Linked DNA regions of Homo sapiens: region 2 is linked to region 1. Evidence: fine-mapped expression QTL. A gene starts in region 1. The other region holds a variant in brackets. All regions are shown on one strand. Distances are from middle to middle. Region 1 holds the start of UNC93B1 (unc-93B1 regulator of TLR signaling). Region 2 holds the start of LOC124902697 (a long non-coding RNA gene).

Evidence for each region. PIP is the estimated chance that this variant, and not a neighbour inherited with it, causes the effect. A credible set is the group of variants that fine-mapping cannot tell apart.
Region 2: its variant is the best candidate, but not a certain one, in a credible set for the expression of UNC93B1 in esophagus muscle (GTEx, PIP 0.67).

What each region holds. Positions count from the first base shown.
Region 1 is chr11:67,999,688-68,009,479 of GRCh38, forward strand. UNC93B1 (unc-93B1 regulator of TLR signaling) reads right to left here and starts at 4,410. Exons shown (of 11, transcript NM_030930.4): 1 at 4,261-4,410; 2 at 3,970-4,111; 3 at 3,335-3,488. The coding sequence starts at 4,356. It also overlaps a transcript of ALDH3B1 not described here. RefSeq lists enhancers at 2,963-3,162, 3,263-3,312, 3,413-3,462, 4,367-4,910, 4,911-5,453 and silencers at 3,763-4,172, 4,233-4,532.
Region 2 is chr11:67,971,786-67,988,967 of GRCh38, forward strand. LOC124902697 (a long non-coding RNA gene) reads right to left here and starts at 7,272. Exons shown (of 2, transcript XR_007062743.1): 1 at 6,988-7,272; 2 at 6,281-6,883. It also overlaps the pseudogene OR7E1P. RefSeq lists an enhancer at 280-780. The variant A/G (reference allele first, on the strand shown) is at 9,046.

The DNA of each region.
Region 1 (9,792 bases):
CAGTGGGAGAGATGCTGGCACCACAGGCCTGCTGGACCACTGTGGCCTGAAGCCAAACGGGGCCACAACCGCAGGTCCCAGCTCACAGGGCTTTGTGAGGTAGAGAGAGTCGAGGGCACTGAGATGGAATATCAGATACACAGACTTGCTGAGTGGCCTCAGGCAAGCTACTGTGCCTCAGTTTTCCCAGCTGTAATATGGGCACGGAGCCCAAACCACAGGCCTCTCATCACCACTGTGAGGATGGAGAGTGACCCATGGGTGTAACCAGCCCTCATGCGTGTTCTGGGCTCTCTGATTCTCCCATTCCCCCTTCTCCTCCCAAGCTCATGCACTGTGTCTGTAGGGCCCAGGGGCTTGACTCAGGCTGGGAGAAGAGAAAGGAAGAGGCCCCACTGCTGGGAGCAGCAGAGCCAGAGTCCCGGCACCCCTGCCTCCAGTCCATTGCTTTTATGAACCATGGTGGTCAGTCAGGAAGTTTCCACCTCTCTGGGTCTGGGAAAAGGTCACACAGTGACAATAGAAGGGGCTTGGTGAGTGACAGGATGAGGGCTCAACCACCCATGGAGGCTGATCAGGCCAAAAACCACTACTGGTATCTTCAAGTTTTCTGTATTTATGCTCCTTAAGTAAAAATGCCAGTAAAAATGTGCATTCACTGCTGGTGAGGATGTGGTTTGAAAGTGGCACATATAGGCCAGGCACAGTGGCTCACATCTGTAATTCCAGCACTTTAGGAGGTGGAGGTGGGCAGATCACCTGAGGTCAGAAGTTTGAGACCAGCCTGGCCAACATGGTGAAACCCCACCTCTACTAAAAATACAAAAATTAGCCGGGTGTGGTGGTGCACACCTGTAATCCCATCTACTTGGGAGGCTGAGGCAGGAGAATCGCTTGAACCCAGGAGGTGGAGGTTGCCGTGAGCTGAGATCGCGTCACCGCACTCCAGCCTGGGCAACAGCAAGATTGCTCAAAAAAAAAGTGGCACATATAGCCAGTGGTCACACACACTGGCATAACCCTTTGGGAAAGCAGCCTGGTAGTTTTGGCAGGGGGTGAACATGTGGATTTGAGTCCCTCTACTGGGGTTCAAGCCTTCAGTCTGCCAGTTACTGCCTGTGGGACCTGGGCAAGTTGTTTAACACCATGGTTTCTTCATGTCTAAGACTGGAGCAGCTTCCTCAAATTATTGGGAATGAAATTGCGCTTATAAAGTGCCCAGCACGGCCGGGCGTGGTGGCTCGTGCCTGTAATCCCAGCACTTTAGGAGGTGGAGGTGGGCAGATCACCTGAGGTCAGAAGTTTGAGACCAGCCTGGCCAACATGGTGAAACCCCGTCTTTACTAAAAATACAAAAAATTAGCTGAGCGTGGTGGCGGGCGCCTGTAATCCCAGCTACTCAGGAGGCTGAGGCAGGAAAATCGCTTGAACCTGGGAGGCAGAGGTTGGAGTGAGCCGAGATTGTGCCATTGCACTCCAGCCTGGTGATAGAGTGAGACTCCATTTCAAAAAAAAAGTAAAAATAAAAATAAATAAATAAAATAGAGTGTCGGGCAGACAGGAGACAAGAGTTCACTGCTATTAGTAGAAGTGATAGGTTTCAAAAGCCATAAAGCCTTTTGTATGGCTTGGACCTAGTAAAGACATTGTTGAAAATGTATCCTAGGAAAAATAATTGTTTAAAAAATTGGGGGAGTGCTGGATGTGGTGGCTCACACCTGTAATCCCAACACTTTGTGGGGCTGGGGCGGGTGAATTTGAGACTGGCCTGAGCAACATAGCAACTCCCCATCGCTACAAATACTTTAAAAATCAGCCAGATGTGATGGCGTGCGCCTGTAGGCCCAGCTACTCGGGAGGCTGAGGTGGGAGGATTGCTTGAGCCCAGTGTGTGGGGGTTGAGGAGGCAGTGAGCTGTGTTCGTGCCACTGCACTCTAACCTGGGTGACAGAGTGAGACTCTGTCTCAAATAATAATAATAATAAAATAAATAAACACATAATTTAAAAAAAAAAAACAAGGAAACAGATGTAAGCACAGAAGGAACTGCAGTGTCCAATTCCAAGCCACTGTTCAGTGCCACCGTATCTGCAGAAGATGCTACCATTGCAAAGTCGTAACTGTGAAGGCTGTAGAGTAGGCTAAGATATGCTCAGTGAAAAGAAGGAAGCAAGCTCTGGGCACTGTGGCTCATGCCTGTAATCCCAGCACTTTGGGAGGCCAAGGCAGGAGAATCACTTGAGGTCAGGAGTTTAAGACCAGCCTGGTCAACATAGTGAAACCCCATCTCTACTAAAAGTACAAAAATTAACCGGGTGGCAGGCGCCTGTAATCCCAGCTACTCAGGGTGCTGAAGTAGGAGAATCGCTTGAGCCTGGGAGGCAGAGGTTGCAGTGAGCCGAGATCACACCACTGCACTGCAGTCTAGGTGACAGAGCAAGTATCTGTCTCAAAAAAAAAAAAGTAAGCAAGCAAAAGCAAACATAGCCCGCTTGCATACACACACACACACACACACACACACACACACACACGGGCACGTCCACACACGTGCTCTGGGGACAAGGATGTGAATGTAATCCATGCATGCTGGTGGGACAGCATGGGTAGCCGATTTCCTGGAGGGCTTAGATGGGGTTTCTTTTTTATGATTTCAGTTATTCTAATCCTGCCTGTGCAACGGGAGATGTTTTAAATTTTCAAATTTTTGTTTAAATGGAGTTTTCTCTTGTTGTTTTGTTTGTTTGTTTGTTTTAAAGATGAGGGAGCTCAAATTCACCTAATTTGTCCACTGGTCTCCAGGTCCCATCAGGGAGGGCACTGTGGACCGGTGATGGGGAGGCTGAACCACATACCTCCAGGGCTCAGATCTGGGGGAGAGCTCTGGGGCACCTGCCCAGCCATGCCTGTCTGTGAGAAACACCCCCTCAGCACCAGTCACAGCGACTGGGCCAGGCATGGGTGCCTGGACTTTGCTGACCGATCAGAAACCCCTAACTCTACAGCCCCAACCCTGAAGGCCACAGTGGCTCTGGGAGGCCTCCAAGGAGGCCACGAGGAGGGTGCCACGTGAGGCCCAGGCAAGCTGGGAGGGAGCTCAGCCCGTGTGAATCTGTTGCTGGAAACCAAATGTGCCCTGAGGCAAAGTTCCTGTTTCCTTCCCCAAATCCGAGTTTCACCCCCTTCACTCTCAGGCTTCCGGGTAGAAAAAAACCTCTCCCTTGTTCCCTCGCCCCACAAACACCCCGGCAGATGGACACCTCCTGGCCCGCCGGCCTCTGTACCCCTCCGAAATGGGAGTACCGCAGCATCCCACAGGAGCAGCCGCGCCCACCTGATGAGCACAGGTGTGTAGAGCAGGGCGGCGATGGGAGTCACGTTGATGCCCATCAGCATTTTGCTGTCGATGTCGGGCAGCCCCATGTTGCCATACTTCACCTCGCGGTAGGTCTCGTCGTAGTGCAGGATCAGCTGCATCTGCAGGAGGCCTGGGGACAGGACAGAGAGCGGCGTGCAGGGAGCAGCCTAGCTTTGGGCGCCACCGAGCAGAAGACGGCATGCAGGCCTCGCAGGGAGCTCCAATCACCGAAGGCATTCCCGCTGACAGCGCCCCTCAGGACAGCGGGGTTCCCGGGCTGCGCCACGCCTTCTGCCAGCCCGCGGCCACTTGGCCAGCTAAGCCCAGACCCCCACCCGCCTTGCTCCGCCGGCCTCCAATTCTGACGGTGGCAGGTCTGTCCGGGAGCCCGGACCCCCGTCCCCCACCCACACCGAGGCTCTGGCTGGGACCCGGGGACGCTGCGCTACTTGACCCCCCAACCCCACCCCCGCCGCGGGGGGCCGTGGCTGCAGCTGCGAGGGCAGCGGAGGGGAAGTGAGAGCGGGCGGGAGGCGGCGGCCCGCGGTTTCTGTTTCCCGGGCCGGGCTGGGAGCGGGCGGGGCGGCCCCGGGTCCCCGAGCGGCACCTACCCAGGTAGACGCCGTAGGTGAGCATGCCCCCGGCGCTGGCAGCCAGCACGTTCTTGAGCACGCCCAGGCGCTTGCGGCGGTAGTAGCGGCGCTCCTCCTCCTCCTCGTTGTAGTTGGGGTACGCGCCCACCAGCTCGTCCAGCTGCGAGCCACGCACGCCGCTCGCACCCGCGATCGCGCCCCGAACCCGTGTCCCCCGGTGCCCGCCGCCCCCCGGCCCGCCCCGCCCCCGCCGGGGGGACCCTGGCCCACAGGGGACGCCCGCGCCTCGCACTCCGGGTCCCCGCTCACCGGGGCCTCGGGCCCGTCCGGGACCCCGAGCAGGTCCTCGTCGCCCTGCGGCCCCGCAGCCCCCGCCATCGGGTAGAGCGGCGGCTCCGCCTCCATGGCCCGAACTACTGCGGACTCGCGGCGGTCGCCCCGGAGTCCCTGCGACCGCCCGGCCACTTCCTCCCGGCGGCCGGGACCTGCCCCCGCCCCGCCCTGTCCCGCCCTGCGGGCCGCCTCCTCCAGGACACGTGTGTGTGTATGTGTGTGTGCGCGCGCGCGCGCGCGTGTGTGCAGGGGCCTGCCTGTGTGTGCCCTCTGGGGTGTGAGTTCGAATCCCCACTCAGCCACCTCCTGGCCCTGTGACTTTAGGAATTAACTCCATTTCTTTGTGCCTCGGTTTCCTCCGTTTCCTCGACGGTAAAACAGAAATACATGGCACTACCCCCGGGGCCATGGCGGAACTATTGAGTTAATGCAAAGCCTTGGAAAAGTGCCAGGGTTGCCTGGCTCCCTTAAGCTCCCCTCAGGGTTGCCTGGGTCGTCCCCAGCCCCACCTCCAAGCCTGCTGTTACAGCTCATCAAAGAGCACTGCAGGGACAGTAGCGTCACCACCTGGACCCCACCTCCCACCACCGGACGCTACAGCCAGAGCCCACCTCCCATGTCCCCATCCTGCTCCAGTTTGGGCTGTGCAAATGGGAGCTTGAGTGGGTCCTGGGAGGTGGAGATTGTGATCCCCACTGAACTACATGGGGGACCCTGCCACAACCATGTAGTGGGGCCCAGAGCCACCTGCCCCCATCCTGCTGGGCACTGGATCCCGGGCTGCAGCGGGAGCCTGTGGTGGGGCCGACACTCCAAAGCACTGGCTACCACCGACCTGGCTGGAGCCACGGGGCCACTTTTGAAAATATCCAGATTCTCTCCCCTGGGTTCCTTCTGGTTTGAATGCTCTTCCTGCTGCGCCTCCCAGGTGGCTTCCTTCCCACTCAGCTCTCAGAACAAGAGACCATCCCTGCAGAGAATGCAGTCCCTTCACTTCCCTTCTGGTTTTCCATGCCCTCCCTGTGCACCCCCCTCCACCCACTGCTCTTTAGGTACATCCTCTCCCAAATGCAGAGGATGGCATTGGGCACCTACTGAGTGATCAATACTTGTGACTGGATGGGTGCATGAGTGACTGGATGACAAACACCTCCCACCCCGCAAGGATTGCTGGGAAGGTGGGGGGAGGCGTGAATCTGCAGTGGCTTCAGGCTTCCAGGAGGTAGAACTTTCTCCAGGTGACGATGCCCAAGTGCAGATGTGGGGAACAGACAGGTGGATTCATGCAGGTGGGTGGCTGGAAGTGGGAGACAGGAAAGGAGCCGAAGAGAGGGCAGGGCCCGAGGCGCAGGGGCAGGGAGGAGGTGGGAGAGTATGGCTATGGCGGGGGCCGTTCTCAGATGGCAGACACCAGCATCATTACACAGTATGATGAGAAAGTGCAATTCTCCTGACTCAGCCTTGTGAGTAGCTGGAATTACAGGCGTGTGCCCCTACACCCAGCTGATTTTTGTATTTTTAGTAGAGATGGGGTTTCACCATATTGGCCCAGGCTGGTCTCGAACTCCTGACCTCAAGTGATGTACCCGCCTTAGCCCCCAAAGTGCTGGGAGTGGGCCCCCCGAGCTTCTCAATTTCCCTGAGGGACCCCAAACTTCTGGGGCCTGGTGCAATCTCTTCCTCCCCTTGTTCCTCTGGGCCTGGGGGTTGTGGCGGTTGCTATGGTTGCCCATCCTGGGCTCTTCCATCACCTGTGCTGTACCACCAATTCCCTGCACTCAATGTCTCCTACTCAAAACACCTGGAGAGGGTCGGGCGCTGTGGCTCACGCCTGCAATCCCAGCACTTTGGCTGGCCAAGGAGGATCACTTGAGCTCAGGAGTTCAAGACCAGCCTCAACAAAGTGAGACAAACCCCCCCCCCCAACCCATCTCTACAAAAAATACAAAAACTAGCCTGGTGTGATGGTGGACACCTGTAGCCCCAGCTACTCAGGAGGCTGAGGTGGGAGAATTGCTTGAGCCCAGGAGGATGAGGCTGCAGTGAGCTGAGATTGTGCCACTGCATTCCAGCGTGGGTGACAGAGTGAGACCTCTCAAACAAACAAACAAACAAAAAACAAAAAAAACAAAAAACAGCCCTGGAGGCACTAAACCCTGACTGATACACCTCCTCTCTCCAGAAAGGATTTTTTTTTTTAGGTGGTTTATGGAGCTGCTCTTGGGGAGCCTGGAGACTATCTAAGAGGCTGATAGGGTGGCCCAGATAAACACACCAGGGTGACCTGCGGGACAGAGATCTGAGCAGGGCCAGCACCTCCACCAACCCATCCAGGTTGCAACAGTGCACAGTCACATCCCCAGGAAGGGGTGGCCAGATCCCCCCGTGCTCACTGTTTGCCAATGCTTTTCTCTATAATAAGCCTTTACTTTCAGTTCTCATTATGAAAATAATCGATGTTCCTTGCAGAAAAGCAAGCAGAAGAGAATAAATATTGCTCTCAACTGGAACTCCCTGAAACAACCTCTTGGAATATTGTTGCCCCGCATTGCACTGACACAGGAGCGTGCTGGGCAGCCCACGTGATTCCCTTCACACCACTTCCCTGGCATGGATGTGATTCCACAATATTTTAAACATTAAAGCCAATGGGGATGATGATCACTGAGTCTGGCTCACAGGATGGTGGGAGGTCCCCAGGTTGGGGTGTGCCAAAGGCTCTGCCCAGTGCCTGGCACAGCAAATGCCCAGGTGGCTGCTGCTTTCCACTGAGACTTGAGGCTCCTGAGAGTTGGTGGCAAAGGGCTCACCCAGAGCTGAAGACTCCAGCCCATTCCTGTGCGAGGGCTCCAGGCACCTTGGAAGCACCGTGGGCCGGGGAGCCAGGCCAGGCTGGTTGTGGATCCCCATGAGTCCTTGTCACTGTGTGGCCCAGCTGGAAAGCATGGTCAATAATGTCTGGGAATTGTGAAAATTGTGTGAAGTGTCTGCACACAGTAGGTGCTCAGTAAAGGTTTGTTGAGTGCGTAAATGAACAAGTGACCCGCATTCACCGTTGCCCGTGAGTTCTGACTGTGTCCTGGGCCCTGGGCCCCTACAGCCTCTAACTTTGCCTCTTCAAGGAGCCAGGGTGGGTCCAGCCTTCAAGACTGCCAGGGAGGGGGTGGGAGGCAGGGCCAGGGCCTCAGGGCCAAGGCCTGGGGCAGCCACTTCCTCAGGAGGGCAAGGAGAGGGGCAGGAGGACATTCACATGCTCTGAGCGCCTACTGAGAACCAGGTGCCCTGTCGGTGCCTTCAGGTCGGCTCTCGTTTCACCCTCGCAGTAGCCATGTGAGGCAGGCAGAGTCAGCCCCCATTTTACAGCTGGGGAAACTGAGGCCCAGTGAGGGGACGTTTCTTTTCAAGGTCACTCGTGGGCAGATGAGGCAGTGAGATGCTCTTGGGCAGGTCTGAGGCCCTGTGAGCCAGGCTCAGGGGCGTGTTTCTGAGAAGTGAGGGAATGAATGAATGAATTATGAATGGATGAATGATTCCACCTGATGCCATGCTCATGCCCTGCCCACACTCCTGTCCTAGAGTCTGGAAGGTAGCTCTCAGACCCTTCCAGAGGGGGCCGGGCACTTGGAATGGTCACAGTTCCGGGCCCACGTGCATGGAATAACTTGTTTCAGCCTCACAATCACTTATGTCCCATTTTACAGATGGGAAGGCAGAGGCACGGGGGGTTAAGACACTAACCTAGGTCACACAGGTAAGTGACAGGACCAGGATTTGAGCCCAGACCTCACACTTAACGCCCTCCATGCCAGGTGCTGAGATCCATGCCTGCCGAACCCTCTCATTCACCCACAGATGCCCCCGGGACTGTAGTCAGCCCCATTCTCACATGGGAACACTGAGGCCCAAAGAGGCGAAGCGTCAGCCCAGCAAGGAGGAGGCAGGGCAGGCGGGGCCGCAGCTGTCTGGCCCGGAGCCCTGAGCAACCCCTCCACCCACTCCCCCTGGCTGGCCTGGGCCTTGGCAGACCTCACCCCAGAGCTGGCTCCAAAAGTGAGTCCTCCTGGTGCCCTACCCAGAGGGCTCCCCATTTACCCTGGGCTCCTCAACAAAGATGGGACTCCCAGGCCCTACTGAGCCTCTGGAGCTTTGAGGAGTAGTGAGGGGCACCCAACCCAGAGTGGGGAGGGCCCAGCCCTCCTGGGAGGTGTGTGGCCTCCCTTGGGGGGAGCCTCACTCCCAGGGAAGGCTAGGAGTTCTGTCCCGGGAGGACAGGCCTCTTCGGGGGCCTCCTCCCAGGTTGCTCCTGCATTCATGACAAGTTCGGCCCCTGTGAGTTGGGGGAAATTCTTCAACAGCTCCCTGGCCAGGGAGGGGACCCTCGGGATCCTGAAACACCCCTCCCACCTGCCAGTACCCGCCAAGATGGGTCCCTGATTTGCTGTGTGGCCTTAGACCAGTGGCTGCCCTCTCTGGGCCTCACTCCCAGCTGAGACCTACAGGCTCAGCCCCTGCCCAGCCCTGCCTGGCACCCGCTCAATCTGGCTGAGCTCCAGAGAATGGCAGGGCTGGGCTGTCACATGCTGAGCCACGTGACTGGCAGTGGCTGGGGGCTCCATCCCACACAGAGGACAGGGGCTCTGCAGTCCTTCACCCCCACCCTAACTATCTAATCACGGGCCACCGGTGTGGGCATGGTCCAGAAGACCTCACCGCCCTCCCAGGTAGGCAGGGAGCTGGCGGGTGGGGGGGGCCATGATGAGCACCTCCCAGGTGCCACGTTGGCCCAGAGGCCCCGGGGCCGGGAGCTACGGAGGCCCAGGGCACCAGGGAGATGGTAGCAGCGGCAGGCCCAGGAAGGGGCATAGAGGAGGCTCTTCCTCCACACCTGTCACCCTGTCCCCTGCCTGTCCACACCCACAGCAGCTTGCACATCATCCCCACAGCACGCTGGCTCTGACAGGTGTATCCGGGGCGGGCTGGGGGCAGGCAGGGACAGGCTTAGGCACAGCTGCCTGTGCCGAACTTGAGGAAGATCGGGACTACAGGAACCACCAAGGCGACACGTGGCATCATGACCACGGTCCTAAGCAGAGAGGCAGGCACTCCTCCTGGGAGGCAGAGGGGACATCCGAAACGGGTGCAGCCCCAGCTCTGGAGCAAGAAGCTCTGCCACACACACGCCCCATGTTCACATCCCACCCCCTCTCTGCCCCCACTTCCTCGTTTGTAAAATGTTAGATCTGCAGAAAGACAGGCTCTATGAATGGGGCGGCCCATGGGGTGGTGTGGAGGAACACGGAAGCACAGGGCGCTGGGAGAGGAGCAGGCATGAGGTATGGTCCCTAAGATGGTATTTCTAGACTCCAGCCACCTTTGGGTCTGACCTCTTTGTTTTGCAGAAGGGGAAACTGAGTCTTGGGTAGGGTGTAGCAAGACAAGCCACAGACAAAACACCTCAGACACTGGATTAAAGAAGGAAGAGGTTTATTCAGCTGGGAGCATCAGCAG
Region 2 (17,182 bases), 24 kb before region 1:
AGATAAGGATACAGCATGGGCCAGGCGCTGTCGCTCACGCCTGTAATCCCAGACCTCTGGGAGGCCGAGGTGGGCGGATCACCTGAGGTCAGGAGTTGAAGACCAGCCTGACCGACAGGGAGAAACCCCCGTCTCTACTAGAAATACAACATTAGCTGGGCGTGCTGGCGCATGCCTGTAATCCCAGCTACTCGGGAGGTGGAGGCAGGAGAATCGCTTGAACCCAGGAGGCAGAGGTTGCGGTGAGCCAACATTGCACCATGACACTACAGCCTGGGCAACAAGAGCGAAACTCCATCTCAAAACAAAAACAAAAAACCAGCATGATTTCAAGAGCAGAAAGAGAAGAGCTTAAAAACCAGCATAATGAGAAAGTTAGGAAGTTTCTTACCAAAGCATCTGGAAATATGCAAGCAATTCTTGTGAAGTAAAATTTTCATACTGTGCTATGAAACACTGGAACTCACTTATTCCATCTTTCTGTATTTTGGGACCCAATTATCCACTTGTCTTCATTCCCTATCGCACCCCTTTTCTTCCTAGCGTCTGCTGATCACCTTTATACTTTCCACCTTCCTGAGATTCCTTTTGTGTGTAGGTGTGTGATGGAGTCTCTTTCTGTTACCCAGGTTGGAGTACACAGGCACAATCAGGGCTCACTGCAAGCTCCACCTCCCAAGTTCAAGCGCTTCTTGGGCCTCAGCCCTCTGAGTAGCTGAGACTACAGGCACGCGTCACCACGCCCGGCTCATTGTTTGTGTTTTCCGTAGAGACAGGGTTTCACCATGTTGGCCAAGCTGATCTCGAACTCCTGGACTCAAGTGATCCGTGCGACTCGGCCTCCTAGAGTGCTGGGATTACAGGCCTGAGCCACAACACCTGGCCAAGGTTTCCTTTTTTCTTCTTACATAGAAGTGAGGACATGAAATATTTGTCATTCTGTGCCTGGCTTCTTTCATTTAATATACAGACCTGCAATCTCATCCATTTTGTCTGCAGCGGAGAGGAGTTTCTTCCTTTTTCGGCTGAATAATACTTCACTGGGTGTGTATACCACAGTTTCTTCATTGAAACAAATTTCTGAAGAGCAAATATTTTTAAAATGTCTCAGAATGTGAAACCTCAGGGATACTGTGTCCATTTTATTCTTTTCTATTTCCTATCTTATGTATATGCAAGTGTATAACAAAGCAGCAATCAATGTGTGTATAAATCTACAACTTCAACAAATGTAAAATGTAAATGCTAAGTGGTGGCTGGGCGCAGTCGCTCATGCCTGTAATCCCAGCACTTTGGGAGGCGGAAGCGGGCGGATCACCTGAGGTCGGGAGTTCAAGACCAGCCTGACCAAAATGGAGAAACACTGTCTCTATTAACAATATAAAAAAAAAAAAAAATTAGCCAGGCATGGTAGCGCATGCCTGTAATCCCAGGTACTTGGAAGGCTGAGACAGGAGAATTGCTCGAATACGGGAGGCAGAGGCTGCAGTGAGCCGAGACCGTGCCATTGAACTCCAGCCTGGGCAACAAGAGTGAAAATCTGACTCAAAAAATAAGGAAAAGAAAGAAATAGAAAATGCGAAATGGTAAGAAACAACAACATAATAAACATTTGTATGGTGTTGATGGACAATGCATTTGAAGATAATATTTGAAGAAATCATATTACAATTAATTTCTGTTCTTACTCATTGGAGCTTGATGCCTCTAAAAACTTCGTCATTGGAACCACCTCTGGTGCTTTAAAAGAAAAAAAAAAAAATCCACATACTCACACAGGTGCAAGGAAATCAGAATCTCAGGTATTGAGACCCAGGCCTCATCATTTGTAAGCTCCCCAGGTGATTTGACTCAAAGCCAAGATTGAGGAATGGCGACATGGATCTCTACACAGAACCTGCCTAAATAGATTCTCTAGAAGCAGTTTATAAAGATATTCCACGTGGACTGTGGAAGAGGATATGAATTTGATGTACAGCATGTCCTCACTTAACATCTTTGAAAGTCTCTTGGAAACTTCACCTTTAAGCAAAATTATGTATAGTGAAACCACTTATTTTTCATCAACAGTATAACTACACATCTTTGAACAACTGATGGTGTTGGAGGACCTCCTGTACATTGTTTCCATAAAGTCAGTTTTCAGGGAATTCCAAAAGGAAGTGAGGACTTCGTGTATATAAAAAGATGGTTGTGATTCCACCTGGATGACAGGGTTATTGCTCAGAAACTAAAAGAGGCCACCTAGGTATAGAGGATTCTGTCATGAGGTTTCTGCTAAACAAAGGGTCCCAGAATCCTCACCCATTCCAGTGAAAGGCATAGCGAAGAAAGCAATATTCACAAAGGAAATGTGGAAAGGAATAAAAGCCATCAAGCCACAGAAAGAATGTGACTAAGGGGCAGGATTTGCAGATGTAGAGATTTAATGTGGTTGCCCTTTCTCACCCACACAAGAGAAAGGATGGAACAAATCATGAGATTCGACTGTTGTGCTGTGCAGCCTCCACAGGGCACTTTGTATGTTCCTGTTTCTCAGGCTGTAGATGAAAAGGTTCAGCATGGGGGTGACCACAGCATACATCACTGATGCCACCACACCATTCCTGGGGGGTTGTGACACAGCTGAAGTCAGGTACATGCCAATGCCTGTTCCATAAAATCAGCAAACAACGGCTAGGTGAGAGCCACAGGTGGAGAAGGCTTTATACTTCCCATCTGACGATGAAATCCTTAGAATGGAGGGGATGATTTTATAGTAAGACCATAGGATCCCTGAAATGGGAAGAAAACCAAACATAGTACTATCGAAATATATGAATATGCTATTGATGACGCTGTCAGAACAGGCAAGTTTGAGAAGTTGAGAGGGGTCACAGACAAAATTAGAGATTTCCAAATTCTAGACGATGGTGAATTGTAACACAATCCAACTGTGCAGCTGGGAATCCAACAGGCTAAGGAAAAAGGACACCAAAACGAAGACACAGAGGTGAGGATTCACGATGACTGGGTAGTGCAGAGGGCGACAGATGGCTACAAAGCAGTCATAGGCCATCACAGTCAGGAGCATGCCTTCTATACATGCAAAAAGGACCAAGAAAGACATCTGCGTCAGACAGCCCGCATGAGACGTGACTCTGCTATGCGACTGCATGTCCACAATCATCTTGGGAACCGTGGCGGAGGTGAAACCGATGTCAGCCCAGCACAGGTTGGAGAGGAAGAAGTACCTGGGGGTGTGGAGGGGGGAGTCAGAGCAGACAGCCAGGATGCTGAGCAGGTTCCTCAGCACCGTGACCAGATACATGGACAGGGACAGGGACAGCAAAGCGAGGATAGGCTGCAGTTCTGGGTCCTCTGAGAGTCCCAGGAGGAGGAATTCTCAGACACCTGTGAGATTCCGTGGCTCTGTGTGTCTTGGACACCTTGAGAAGGAAAGAGGATTGGAAAAATAGCAGATAAAAACCAGCCCTTAATGCTGGATGCAAGCAATTCACAAGGAACATCTTCACACTTGCGGACCATACACCGCCAGCAATGTTTCTCAGTTGTGACAATTCCAAAAAATCTCAGAATTATTACGTGATTTACTTTTTTGCTATACAAGGCTTTCTGTACATACTACTTTAGAGAAAATCCACTGAAGAATATCAGAGACCAAAACGTTATATATAACAAATCCGTGATCTCAGTAAAATACGGCCTACTCTTTTCAGAAAAAATACAATGCAATGACAATGTCCTTTCTCTTGAAGAAAAAGATCTCAGTCTAATTGAAAGAAATTAAGAAGCCGTGAAATGCACTCTACTTTATTCTGACCCCGTGCTACAACTTCCATTGATGTAGAATATGTAAAAGGACGACACAAGAGCTAGGACCCCATTATCTGAAAACGACATCGAACCTTATAGTTCTCAATCGAAAGATTTTCACATGCCTGTTACTTTTCATATTTATTATCATCCTTCGGTTTTCTGACATCACTTCTTCATAAAAGTACATGCACGCTCAAAGATGGGAGCTGTGTTTCCAAATGAATTGAATCTATAACTCTTGGCCCAGCACCATGGCTCACACCTGTAATCCCAGCACTTTGGGTAGCCGAGGCTGATGGATCACCTGAGGTCAGGAGTTCCAGACCAGCCTGGCCAACGTGGTGAAACCCCGTCTCCAGTGAAAATAAAAAAACATTAGCCGGGTGTGGTGGCGGGTAACCCTAGCTACTCGGGAGGCTGAAGCAGGAGAATCCCTTAGAACCTGGAAGGCAGAGATTGGAAACCCTGTGATAGGATTTTTGACAGCCTAGGGAGATATTGCACCTGACAGCAGAGTCGGCGTACACCCTGTGATATTATTTGTAATATCCTAGAAAGATATTTCTCCTAATATCACAGTGGCTGTACACCCTGTGATCTTAATTGTAATATCCTACAGAGATATTACTCCCAATAATACAGTGGGTGTACACCCTGTGATATTATTCATAATATATTACAGAGATACGACTCCTGATATCACAGTGAGTGTACACCATGTTTGTACACCCTGTGATCTTATTTGTAACAACTTAGAAAAATATTACAGCTAATATCAAAATGGGTGTGCACCCTGCGATGTTATTTGTTTTCTACTAGGTAGATATTACTCCTAATATCACAGTGAGTGTACACCATGTGTGTGCAGACTGTGAAATTATTCATAATACTCTAGGAAGATATTATTCCTCATATCACAGTGGGTGTACACCGTGAGTGATTTTTTTTCTAATATCCAGCGGGGGAGAGGATGATATTGCTTCCAATATCACGGAAGGTGTACACCCCGTTGTGATATTGTTCCTAATATCCAGGGAAGGAGAGGATGACATTATTCCCAATATCACTGGGGGTGTACCACCTCCCTCCGGGATATTGTTCTTATTGTCAGTAGGTGGAGAGAATGATGTTACTCCCAATATCACAGGGGGTGTACACCACCCCTGTCTGTAAACACCCCCTGTGATATTGTACCAAATGGCCTGTGAAAGAGTCAATATTACTCCCATTATCGCAGGGGTGTTCAGACCTGATGATATTGTTTTCTAACATCCAGGGAAGGAGAGTATGCTATTATTCCCAATATAGCAGGGGTTGTACACCTTTTTGTGTTATTGGGCCCAATATCCAGGAAAATAGAAGATGATAGTACTCCCAATATTGAAATAATTGTACAGCACCCTTGTGATATTCTTCCTAATATCCAGAAAGGAAAAGAATGATATTACTCCCAACAGCGTAGGAAATGTATACCCGCTCTGTGATATCTTTCCCCATATCCAGGTGGGGAGAGGATCATATTACTTCCAATATCGCAGGGTGTGTACACCCCCTCTGTGATCTCGTTGCTAACATCCAGGTTTGGGGAGGATGACATGACTCCCAATATCTCAGGGGGAGTTCACCCCCCATGACCTTGTTTGTCATTTCCTTGGTGGAGAGGATGATATTACTCCCAATATCGCAGGGGGTGTACACACCCCTGTGAAAATCTTCCTTATATCCAGAGGGAGAGAGGATGATATTACTCCCAGTACCGCAGGGTGTTTCCACAGCCCTGTGATACTCTTCCTAATATCCACAGGGAGAGAGGATGATATGACTCCCAATATCGCAGGGGGTGTACACCCCTCCTGTCCTATTGTTCTGAATACCCTGGGAGGGAGAAGATAAGGTGACATTGAATATCACAGGGAATGTACACCCTCCCCCTCTGATACCCTTCCTAGTATCCAGGGGAAGAGAGGATAATTGTACTCCCAATATCGCAGAGGCAGTACACCCCACCTGTGGTATTGTTCCCAACATGCAAGGGGAGAGAGGATGATACTACTCCCAATATCGCAGGGGTGTTCACATCCCCAGTGACATTTTTCCTAATATCTAGGGGAGAGACAATTACATGACAGCAAATGTCGCAGGGTCTGTACATCCCTTCTTGATATTGTTCCTAATATCCAGGGGGGAAGAGGATGATATCGAATATGAAAGGGGGTATACAACCCCCACCCCTAAGATACTGTTCTCAATATTCTTGAGGGGAGACGATGATATGACTCCAAATATCGCAAGGGTTGTTCACACCCCCCTGTGATACTCTTTCTAATATCCAGGAGGGGGAGAAAATAACATGACTTCTAATATTGCAGGTGGTGTAAACCCCACCTGAAATATGGCACCGAATATCCAAAGAGAGAGAGGATGGTATTCATACCAATATCGAAGTGTGTGTACACGCCCCTTGTGACATGGTTTTTAATATCCAGGGGGTGGGAGGATATTAGTCCCAAAGTCCCAGAAGGTGTACACTACCCCTGTGATATTGTCCCTAACTTCCAGAGGGAAGAGGATGAGATCACTCCCGATATCTCAGAAGTTGTACATCCCCTGTGATACTGTTCGTCATATCCAGGGAGGCACAAGATGACATACCATTGAATTTCACGACAGGCGTACACGCACACTGTGATATTGTTCCTAATATCCAAGAAGGCAGAGGATGGCATTACTCCCAATAAAGCAGTGGGTGTACACTACCCCTGTGTTATTGCCTCTAATATCCGGGGCCGGGGGAGGGGGGGAGAGGATAACATTCCCTCAAATGTAGCAGGTGGTTTGACGCCCCTCGTGGTGTTGTTTTACATATCCATCGCGGAAGACAATAATACTATTTTGATAGTCCGATTCATCCCCTCCACCTTTCCGGAACTCTGAGGCCGGGAGGCAGCAGGCAATTTCCGTGTGATCCCCAATTCCTTTGCCGTCTTCTGTAGCAAGTCAGCCACAAACGCAGGCCCGTTATCTGAGCCGATCCGGAAGGGCAGTCCCAATCTACGAATCAGATCTCGAAGAAGCACACGGGTTACTTCACGAGCTTTCTCAGTTGTGTTGGATAAGCCTCCACCCACCCAGAGTAGGTACGGCCAAGAACTAGTAAATACTTGTTACCTCCACACTTTGGCATCTCTGTGAAGTCTACCTGGAGATCTTCTAAGGGGGCTGCTCCATAAGCTTGTATGCCGGGTGGAACGGCTGGACCTTGCCTCGCTTTATGCTGTCGGCAGGTAACACACCGCTGCCTCACCGTTTTGGCAAGGGCTGAGAAACGCGAGATGTAGAAATACCGGCCTAACAACTTTTCCAGTGACTCCTGACCTCGATAGGTGGTTTCTTGCACAGCCAGTACAACTGCAGCTCCTAGCAGCTGTGGCGCAGCTACTCTCCATCCTTCCTCCATCACTTGTCCTTCCCTCTACCTGGACAAAGTCCTTTTCTTCTTTAGAATAAGCAGGTCCAAGATCAGGTGCTTGAGGGAGCAGAGGAGCTGTGACTGATGCCTGGAAACGGGCAGATGCTGCTTTTCCAGCCTATGAGTCAGCGCGGGAATTCCCCAAGCCCACCAAGGTGGAAGCTCGCTGGTGTCCCCTGCAATGCATAACTGCCACCTTGTGGGGTTTCCATACTACTTCTAATACATAGAAGATTTCTGGTTGATATTTTCTGTCTTTTACCCCAGAGTTTAATAGGCCCTTTTCTTTCTATCACGCTCCATGCATGTGAAGGGTTCAAAAGACATACCGAGAATCAGTGTAAATGTTGACAGTCTCACCCTCACTGAGCTCTAAGGCCCAAATGAAAGCAATGAGTTCAGCTTTCTGGGCTGAAGTGGCCTGGGGCAACGATCTGGCTTCAACAACAGTGTCCAGGGTTATCACTGCATACCCTGCACCTCTCTCTCCTTGGGGGTTGAAGAAGCTGCTCCCATCCACGTATAGTTCCCAGTCTACTGATGCCCAAGGCTGGTCCCAGAAGTCAGGTCTGCTAGAGTCAACTGAGTCCAACACTTCTACACAATCATGCTCGACGGGGCTCTCTGATAGCGGGAGCAAGGTGGCAGGGTGTTACAAACTTCAATGGTTACACGGGGATTTTCACAGAGCAAACTTTGGTACTTGGTGAGTCTGGCATTCATTAGCCAATGATGTCCTTTAATATTCATTAAAGTCACCACAGCATGGGGGGCCTTTCTGTTCAGGTTCTGCCCAAGAGTCAGCTTCTTTGCTTCTTGTACTAGCAGGGCAGTTGCTGCCAAGGCCCTCCAACACAGGGGCCATCCTTTAGAGACCCCATCTAGTTGTTTAGAGAGGTAGGCCACCGGCCTCGGCCAAGGCCCCACAGTTTGGGTTCAAAGTCCGGCTGCCATCTTTTCTCTCTCTCTGACACATAGGATGTAAAAGACTTTGTCAGATCAGGTAGCCCCAGGGCTGGGGCTGACATAAGTTTCTCCTTTAACTCACGAAAGGCTTGCTGTTGTTGGGATCCCCATTCAAAAATTTCCCATCCCCGCCCCCTTTGTGACCTTATACAAAGTCTTGGCTAATACTGCAAAGTTTGGGATCCGCAGTCTACAAAACCCCACAGCTCCTAAGAATTCTCTCACCTGCCTTCTGCTCTTAGGCTCTGCTAGATTGCAAATGACCGGCTTTCTTTCTGATCCCGGGCTGCGTTCCCCCTGTCGGATACTAAATCCCAAGGAACATACCTGCTGTCAGCAGATCTGAGCTTTTTTCTTGGACACCTTACACCCACAGTCCTCCAGGTGTCGGCGTAGGGCAATCTGTTCCCTTGGTGCACCCGACTGCCATGAGGTGTCCCAGCAAAAGCTCATCAACCTACTGGAGCAATGCGCAGCCTAGGTCTCTGGTGGGAAACTTCTGGAGGTCTCAAGCCAACGCCTCCCCAAAGATGGTGGGGGAGTTCTTGAACCCTTGGGGAAGCCCGGTCCAAGTGTACTGAGTAGTGACACCTGACTCCGGATCTTCCCACTGAAAGGCAAACAGCTTCTGCCTCTCAGGGGCTAATCTGATAGAAAAGAAAGCGTCTCTCAGGTCCAAGCAGGTGAACCAGCTGTCCTCAGCTGGCAGCAACCCCAACAACATGGACGGGCTAGGTACTGTTGGATGTAAAGTCAGGGTAGCTTGACTAAACAAGCGCAAATCCTGTCCC[A/G]GCCTGTAATCCTTGGTCCATGGCTTGGGAACAGGCAGGAGGGGAGTGTTCTGTGGAGACTGACAAGGAACTATCATACCAAAAGTTCTTAGGTGCTTAAGATGGACCTGGATACCTTGAAGAGCTTCTCTGGGGACCAGGTCCTGTTTTTGCCTAAGTGGCTGGGCCCCAGTCTTAACTAGCCAACCCTGGAGGGTTGTCTTCTGCCCGTACTCTTGGCCTCTGCTTAGCCAGAGCTGGTCTTCTCTCTTGGCCCGGTTCAGTTCACAAAAGTCTCCATTCCTCCTCTCGGGGGACCATAAGGTCATAATGACTCCCGTGGCGGGTAACTTTAGCAGCAAAGAGCTGTGTTCTGTCAAAGAGAGAGCAGCTCTCAGCTTGCTAAGCAAGTCCCTTCCCAACAAGGGCAAGGGACAGTCAGGCATGTACAAAAACTGATGAATCACTTGATGTCCTCCTACAGTGCAAGTCCCAGGCAAGCAGAAAGCTTGCTTTGCTGAAACCCCCATGGCTCCGGTGATGTCAAGGGTCTTTCTGGATAACGGGCGACCGGAGCGGTTACTAGCGAATGTTCAGCACCGCTATCCACAAGAAAGTCAATGTCTCTACCCCCGACTCTCATTCTAACCAGAGGCTCTTTGGAGACACTTGAGCCTGGTCTCCCTCAGTCCAATAATCCTTTTGCCAGGTTGAGCCGGGCCCCTTCCTCCTTGTCCGGGGCCTCCTGCTCTGAGTCACCTTGTTTTCTTTTGAGCTCAGGGCATTTGTTCTTCCAATGTCTTATTTCTTTACAATAAGCACTCTGGTTACGCTGCAAACTCTGACAGCCAAGCTGAGTTTCTTTCCCAGGGCTCCCCTTCCCTTGCTTCTTTGGGGGGACAGCTCTGATTGCTGCAGCTAACAAACAGGTCGGCGTTTTGCCGGGCCTGATCTCCATTCTCTTTGCGCTTTCCCTCGTGGCTTACTGTATCCCTGTTTACAAACACCTGCTTAGCTATTTCTCATCAATGTGATGTATTCCTCCCTGCAAGCCCAGCCTGCTTCTGCAGTTTTCTTCTAACGTCTTCCGCACTTTGACGGACTAAAGCCATTTGAATCATGCGCTGATTTTCAGGGTTATCGGGATCAAGGGGAGTATACATACCATAGGCCTCACACAGTCTCTGGTAGAATTGTGCTGGACTTTCTTCTTTTCCCTGAATGACTTCAGAGACCTTATTAATATTTGTGGCCTTCTGAGCTCCCCTCTTGAATCCTTCCAAGAGAGCTTCCCTGTCTCGGTTTAGCCTTTGCATATCCTCTCTTTCATGTGGGTCCAACTGGGGGTGGGTTCCTGGTAACTAGGTCCTTCCATACTCTTGGGGGTTTTGATAATCAGCTGGTGCATGTTCCTCTAGCCACTTAGTTGCTGCGTGGAGCCCTCTCCGCCTTTCGCCTTTCACCTCTCTTAAAGAGGAACATGAGCAACCGGTGGCGATCAGCCCAGGTGGGGTTGTGGGTCTGGATAACAGTTTGGAGCAAATCTATTAGGGCTTGCGGCTTTTCGCTCTAGGACGGGGTATTGTTTTCCCAGTTGAGAAGGTCGGCAGAGGTGAAGGGCTTTTACACAAAAACACGCCTCTCCACCACGTGACCATCCTCCTCTCTCCCAGTATACCGCTGCTCTCTCAGGGGCATTTGGATCCCCGTTTTGGGTCGTAAACGAGCTGCCAAGGGAGGGGTGGAATGGCGCAATGTTACTTACCGCAATTAATAATATCAATTATTAATTGATACTGATAATTATCAATATTAATAACTGATCATATAATTCTTAAAATCAATACCTATAATAATGATAATTCATATTAAAGAGCTATACTCACAATAACAACAAATGATGAATGTTAATGATTAATGACGCCTGGTCTTAGTGATATTGATCTTATTCATTAGAAAACTGTCATATTAACTCCTAATAATTAACATTAATTTTAATAATCTGAACACTTTTTTAGCAATGATTTCTTAATATTAATATTAGTAATACATATTCATGTTAATAATAAATGAGGAAGAATTAATACGAATATTATCCCTAATACCTCAGTGGGTGTACACCCACCTGTGATATTGTTCCTAATGTCCAGGGAGGGAGAGAGCATGATATGACTTTCAATATCGCAGTAGGAGTACACCCACCCGGTGATATTTATCCGAATATCATCTCCAGGGGGTGGCGTATGACGTTACTCCCAAGATAGCAGTGGGTGTGCATCCACCCGGTGATATTCCTCCTAATATTCCCGGAAGAAGAGAATGCTATTACTCCCAGTATCTCAGGAAGTGTACACCCCTTCTGTGACATTGTTCCTAATATCCGGAGGGGAGAGGGTGATATTACTCGCAATATCGCAGGCTGTGTACACCCACCCTCTGATATTGTTCCTAGCAGCCAGGAAGTGAGAGGACGATATGACTCCCCATACAGCAGGAGGCGTACACCCATCCTGGGATATTATTCCTAATATCCACGGAGAGGAGAGGCTGATATGACTCCCAGTATCGCAGGGGGTGTACATCCTGTCTGTGATATTGTTCTTAATATTCAAAGGTGGAGAGGTTGATATTACTCCCAATATCACAGAAAGTGTACAAACCCGTGTACTATTGTTGCTATTATCCAGAAGAAGAGAAGATGATATCACCCCCCCATCGCAGGAGGTGCACACCCACTCTGTGATATTTTTTCCAATGTGCAGGGCAGGGGAGGATAATACTCTTCTTCATAGCACACGGTGTGTACAGCCCCGCTGTAATATGGTCCTTAATATTCCAAGCGGAGAGGATGATCTTACTCCCAATACTGCAGAAAGTGTACACGACCCCAGTGATATGGTGCCCATGATCCAGGACAGAAGAGGATGATGTTACTTTCAATATCGCACAGGGTGGACACGCCCCCAGTGATATTGTTCCTAATTTCAACGTGGGAGAGGATGATACTACACGGAATGCCCCTGGGGTAAAAACACTCCTGTGATATTGTTCTTAATATCAAGGGGAAAGAGGATGCTATTACTCCAAAGAGCGCAGAGGATGTGCACCCGTCTGTGACATAGTTAGTAATTTCCAGAGGCGGAGAAGATATTACTGACAATAACGTGAACACACTGTGTGACCACCGTGGATCGTCATATCCGGGGGGGAGAGGGGGGTGATATGACTCCCCGCATCGCGGGGGGCGCCCGCCCCCCTGCGATGTGGATCGTCATATCCAGGCGGGGAGGGGGGGGTGATGTGACTCCCCGCATCGCGGGGGGCGCCCGCCCCGCTGCGAAGTGAATCGTCATATCCAGAGGGGGGTGATATGACTCCCCGCATCACGGGGGCCTCACCCCCTTGCGATGGGGGTCCTAAGAGCCAGCGGGGGATAGGGGCTGGCTCTTACTCCCCGTACCCCGGGTGGGGGGCCTCACCCCCCTGCGATGGGTCTCCTAAGAGCCGGGGGAGAGAGTGGCTGGCTCTTACTCCCCGTATCCCAGGAGGTGTGTACAACCCCTGCGATATTGGGAGTAATATCATCCTCTCCCCCTGAATATAAGAAACAATATCACAGGAGGATGTACACCCCCTGCGATATTGGAAGTAACATCATTTTCTCCCCCTCCGGATATTCGGAACAGTATCACAGTGGGTGTGTACAGCTCCTGCGACATTGCCGCTAGTATCTTCCTCTCCCTCCCAGGATAGAAGGAAGAATGTTACAAGGGGGTGTACACCCCCTGCGATATTGGCTATAATATCTTCCTCTCCCCCGCTGCCTTTTAGGAGCAATGTCACACAAGGGGTGTACACCCGCGGCTATATTGGGAGTGATATCATCCTCTCCGTCCCTGGATATTAGGAACAATATCCCTAGGGAGTGTACACATCCTGCAATATTCAGACTAATATCATCCTCTCGCCGCCTGGATATTAGGATCAATATCACAAGGGTGGTGTGCACCCCCGGCGAAATTGGAAGAAATATCATCATCTCCACCTTTGGATGTTAGGGACAGTATCTCGGGGGAGGTCTCCGCCCCCTGCGATATTGGGAGTCATATCATCCGCTCCCACCCAGGATATTAGGAACAAGATGACCGAAGGGATGTACGCCCACTGCGCTATTTTCAATAATGTCATCCTCTACCCCCTGGCTATTAGGAGTCACATCATAGAGGGGTGTACACTTTCTGCGATATTGGGAGTAATATCCTCCCCCCACGGATATCGGGAACAGTTCTATTGATTATTAATATTACAAATATAATAACAATTAATAGTAATCATCAATATTAATAATTACTGTAGAGACAGTAAAACAGTACGGATGAAAAATATTAACGGTTACTATTTATAATTAATAGCAATTTCAGTATTAATAATAAAATAATGATATCACTAATTAATGTTACTTCAATCATAAGTGATGTTGGTAATAAAACAATAATTAATATTAAGATTAATAACTAATATTAAAAGTGACATTAATATTAATAATTAATTTTAATCATGCATAATCATATCTCAAAAATAATCATTAATGATTAATAACGTTATACTGTTAATTAATATTACCATTGATAATTATTAATAAGACTGATGTTTAATAATTCAGAATATTATTACTGCTAATACCGCAGGGGGTGTACATCTACTTGTGATAATGTTCCTAATATCCAGGGATGGAGAGCATGATATTAGTTTTCATATCACAGTAGGTGTACACTCACCCTGTGACACCGATCCTAATACCCAGCTTGTAGAGTATGACATGACTGCCAACATAGCAATCAATGTACAGCCACCCGGTGATATTGCTCCTAATATTCACGGAAGAAGCGTATGATATTACTCCCAATATCGCAGGGAGTGTACACCTCTTCTGTGATATTGTTCCTAGTATCCCGAGGGGGAGAGGGTGATAATAATTCCAGCAACGCAGGCTGTGTTCACCCAGCCTGTGAAATTGTTATTAATATCCTGAAAGGGAGAGGATGATATTACTCCCCATAATAGAGCAGGAGGTGTACACCCACCCTGTGATATTCTTCCTAATATTCAGAGGCCGAGAGGTTGATATTACTCCCAATATCGCAGGAAGTATACACCCCTGTGTGAGATGGTCCTTCATAATATTCCAAGGCGGAGGGGGTGATATGACTACATATATGGCAGAAAGTGAACACCCCCCAGGGATATTGTTCCCATGATCCTGGAGGGAAGAGGATGATATTACTTTCAATATCACAGAAGGTGGACACGCCCCCACTGATATTGTTTCTAATTGCAACGTGGGACAGGAGGATATGACACGCGATATCCGAGGGAGTGGAAACACCCCTGTGATACTCTTCTTAATATTCATGGAGGAAGAGGATGATATTACTCCCAATACAGAAAGGTGTACACCCTCTGTACACTGAGGGTATACACCCATCTGTGAAACAGTTCATAATCTCCAGAGGGGGAGATGGTGTTGCTCAAAATAAGGTAAACAGGCTGTGAGTCCACCGCGGATCCTAAAACCCAGGGGGGGAAGAGGGGCTAGCTCTTACTCCCCGCATCGCAGGGGGTGCCTCACCCCCCTGTGATGGGGGTCCTAAGAGCCAGGGGGGGAGAGGGGCTGTTCCCTACGTTGGGGCACTGAGGTCCCTGTTTTCTTGTAAGCTGCCATTGGGGACCACTCTCGGCTTCCAGGGGCCCCCTTGTAGGTGGCACCATGGCCACTTGCCCTACTCCAAGCCTGCAGAAGAGCGCCTCTCTGCCATGTCCCTTTCTTTTAAAAGACTTGCCTGACTGGTTCAGGTCCATTAGGTAGCGTCCCATTTGATTAGCTCAAAAGTACTGTAGCCCATCACATTCACTCACAGGAGGGCATTAGCGGGGTGTGGACACCAGGGAGTGAGAATCTCTCAGGCCAGTTTAGCATTCAGTTGGTTAGCCAGGTTCAGTGGCTCACGCCTGTAATCCCAGCACTTTGGGAGGCCAAGGCGGGCAGATCACCTGAGGCCAGGAGTTCGAGACCAGCCTGGCCAACATGGTGAAACCCAGTCTCTACTAAAAATACAAAAATTAGCCAGGCGTGGTGGTAGGCGCCTGTAATCTCAGCTACTTGGAAGCCTGAGGCAGGAGAATCGCTTGAACCTGGGAGGTGGAGGTTGCAGTGAGCCGAGATTGTGCCTTTGCACTCCAGCCTAGGCGATACAGCGAGTCTCAAAAATAAATAAATGCGAAGGCTGCTGAGCACAGTGGCTCATGCTTTATAATCCTGGCACTTTGGGAGGCCGAGGCAGGAAGACTGCTTGAGGCCAGGAGTTTCAGCCTAGCATGGACAACACAGTGCCACTCTATCTCTAAGTAAAATAAAATAAAATAAAATAAAATAAAATAAAATAAAATAAAATAAAATAAAATAAAATAGTAAAATAAGAATTCAGTTGGTTAAAAGAAACTCACTAGGTCCAGCCCACAATCAAGGGATGGAAATTACACAAAGTTGTGAAGAGTCAAGGGTGGGAGATCGCTGGCAGCCCTTATAGATGCTGCCTATCTCACATACCTGTTGGACAGCTTCTCTCTCCTAGCTGGGGGTATTTGGAGCGGGTGTCGAATCCTGCTCTTTTTTATGTCTGTTGCCTTTTCTCGCGGTGATGTGTTTCCTGTGTGTTCTGTAATTTTGGATCGTGAGCTGAGCTTCAGAGGGGCTTTAGTGGTCCCAGGGTACCACTAAGCCAAGGCAACTTTTATTTTTGAGACAGAGTTTCCCTCTTGTTGCCCAGGCTGGAGTGCAGTGGCGCAGTCTCAGCTCACTGCAACCTCTGCCTCCCAGGTTCAAGCTATTCTCCTGCCTCAGCCTCCAGAGTAGCTGGGATTACAGGCACACGAGGCTTGGCTAATTTTTTGTATTTTTAGTGGAGACGGGGTTTCACCATGTTGGCCAGGCTGGTCTCGAACTCCTGACCTCAGGTGATTCACCTGCCTCAGCCTCCTGAAGTGCTGGGATTACAGGCGTGAGCCACCACTCCCGGCCCAAAGCAACTTTTTAGTGTTAATTTCTCAACTCTGGCATTCCTAGACCACACAGGTGGCATGACTTTATTGTAGGAGTTCCACATTTACATAAGAGAGGCCTGAAAACGCAACGATCTCATGGGAAACTTGTTCACCACCTAAAGCTCAAAATTTCTCACCTCTCTCTGTTCCCCTGGGTGGAAATGTTTCTGTCCCTTTCTCTAAAGGTGTTGCATTTCTGTGGCCCCAACTTCATCATGCTTGACTGTAACCCTAACCCCCTGCCTTGTAAGGGATACCAACGCTCAACCCAGCCCTGCCCTCAGGCAGTTGCAGCACCAGCTCCTCTGTCCCCACCTTGGTTCTCACTCTCCTCTTCACTTCTGGCCTTAGGGGACTTAACTTATTTTCTGAAGAACTCAGCTATATATTTATTTTATTTTATTTATATATTTTTTGAGATGGAGTTTCACTCTTTTGCCCAGGCTAGAGTGTAATGGCGTGATCTTGGCTCACTGCAACTTCTGCCTTCCGGGTTTAAGCGATTCTCCTGCTTCAGCCTCCTAAGTAGCTGAGATTACAAGCGCCTGCCACCACTCCTGGCTGATTTTTGTATTTTTAGTAGAGATGGGGTTTCACCATTGGCCAGGCTGGTCTTGAACTCCTGGCCTCAGGTGATCCGCCTGCCTCAGCCTCCCAAAGTGCTGGAATTACAGGCGTGAGCCACCACGCCCGGCCTCAGCTCTATAGTTAAAAGGACATTTGTTTCTTACCCAGCATTTCTAGGTGTTTTGAAGAGGGAGACTTCTCAGGTTATCTAACCTGCTACTGAGAACTTAAAGATAGGGAAAATCTTGGACTGGAGATTCTTGGAATCACATAATTGAAAAATCCCAGCTGGGCGTGATGGCTCACGTCTATAATCCCAGCACTTTGGGATGCCGAGGCAGGTGGATCACCTGAGGTCAGGAGTTTGAGACCAGGTTGGCCAACATGGTGAAACTTCGTCTCTACTAAAAATACAAAAAAAAAATTGCCTGGCTTGGTGGTGGGCGCCTGTAATCCCCGCTACTCGGGAAGCTGAGGTAGGAGAATCGCT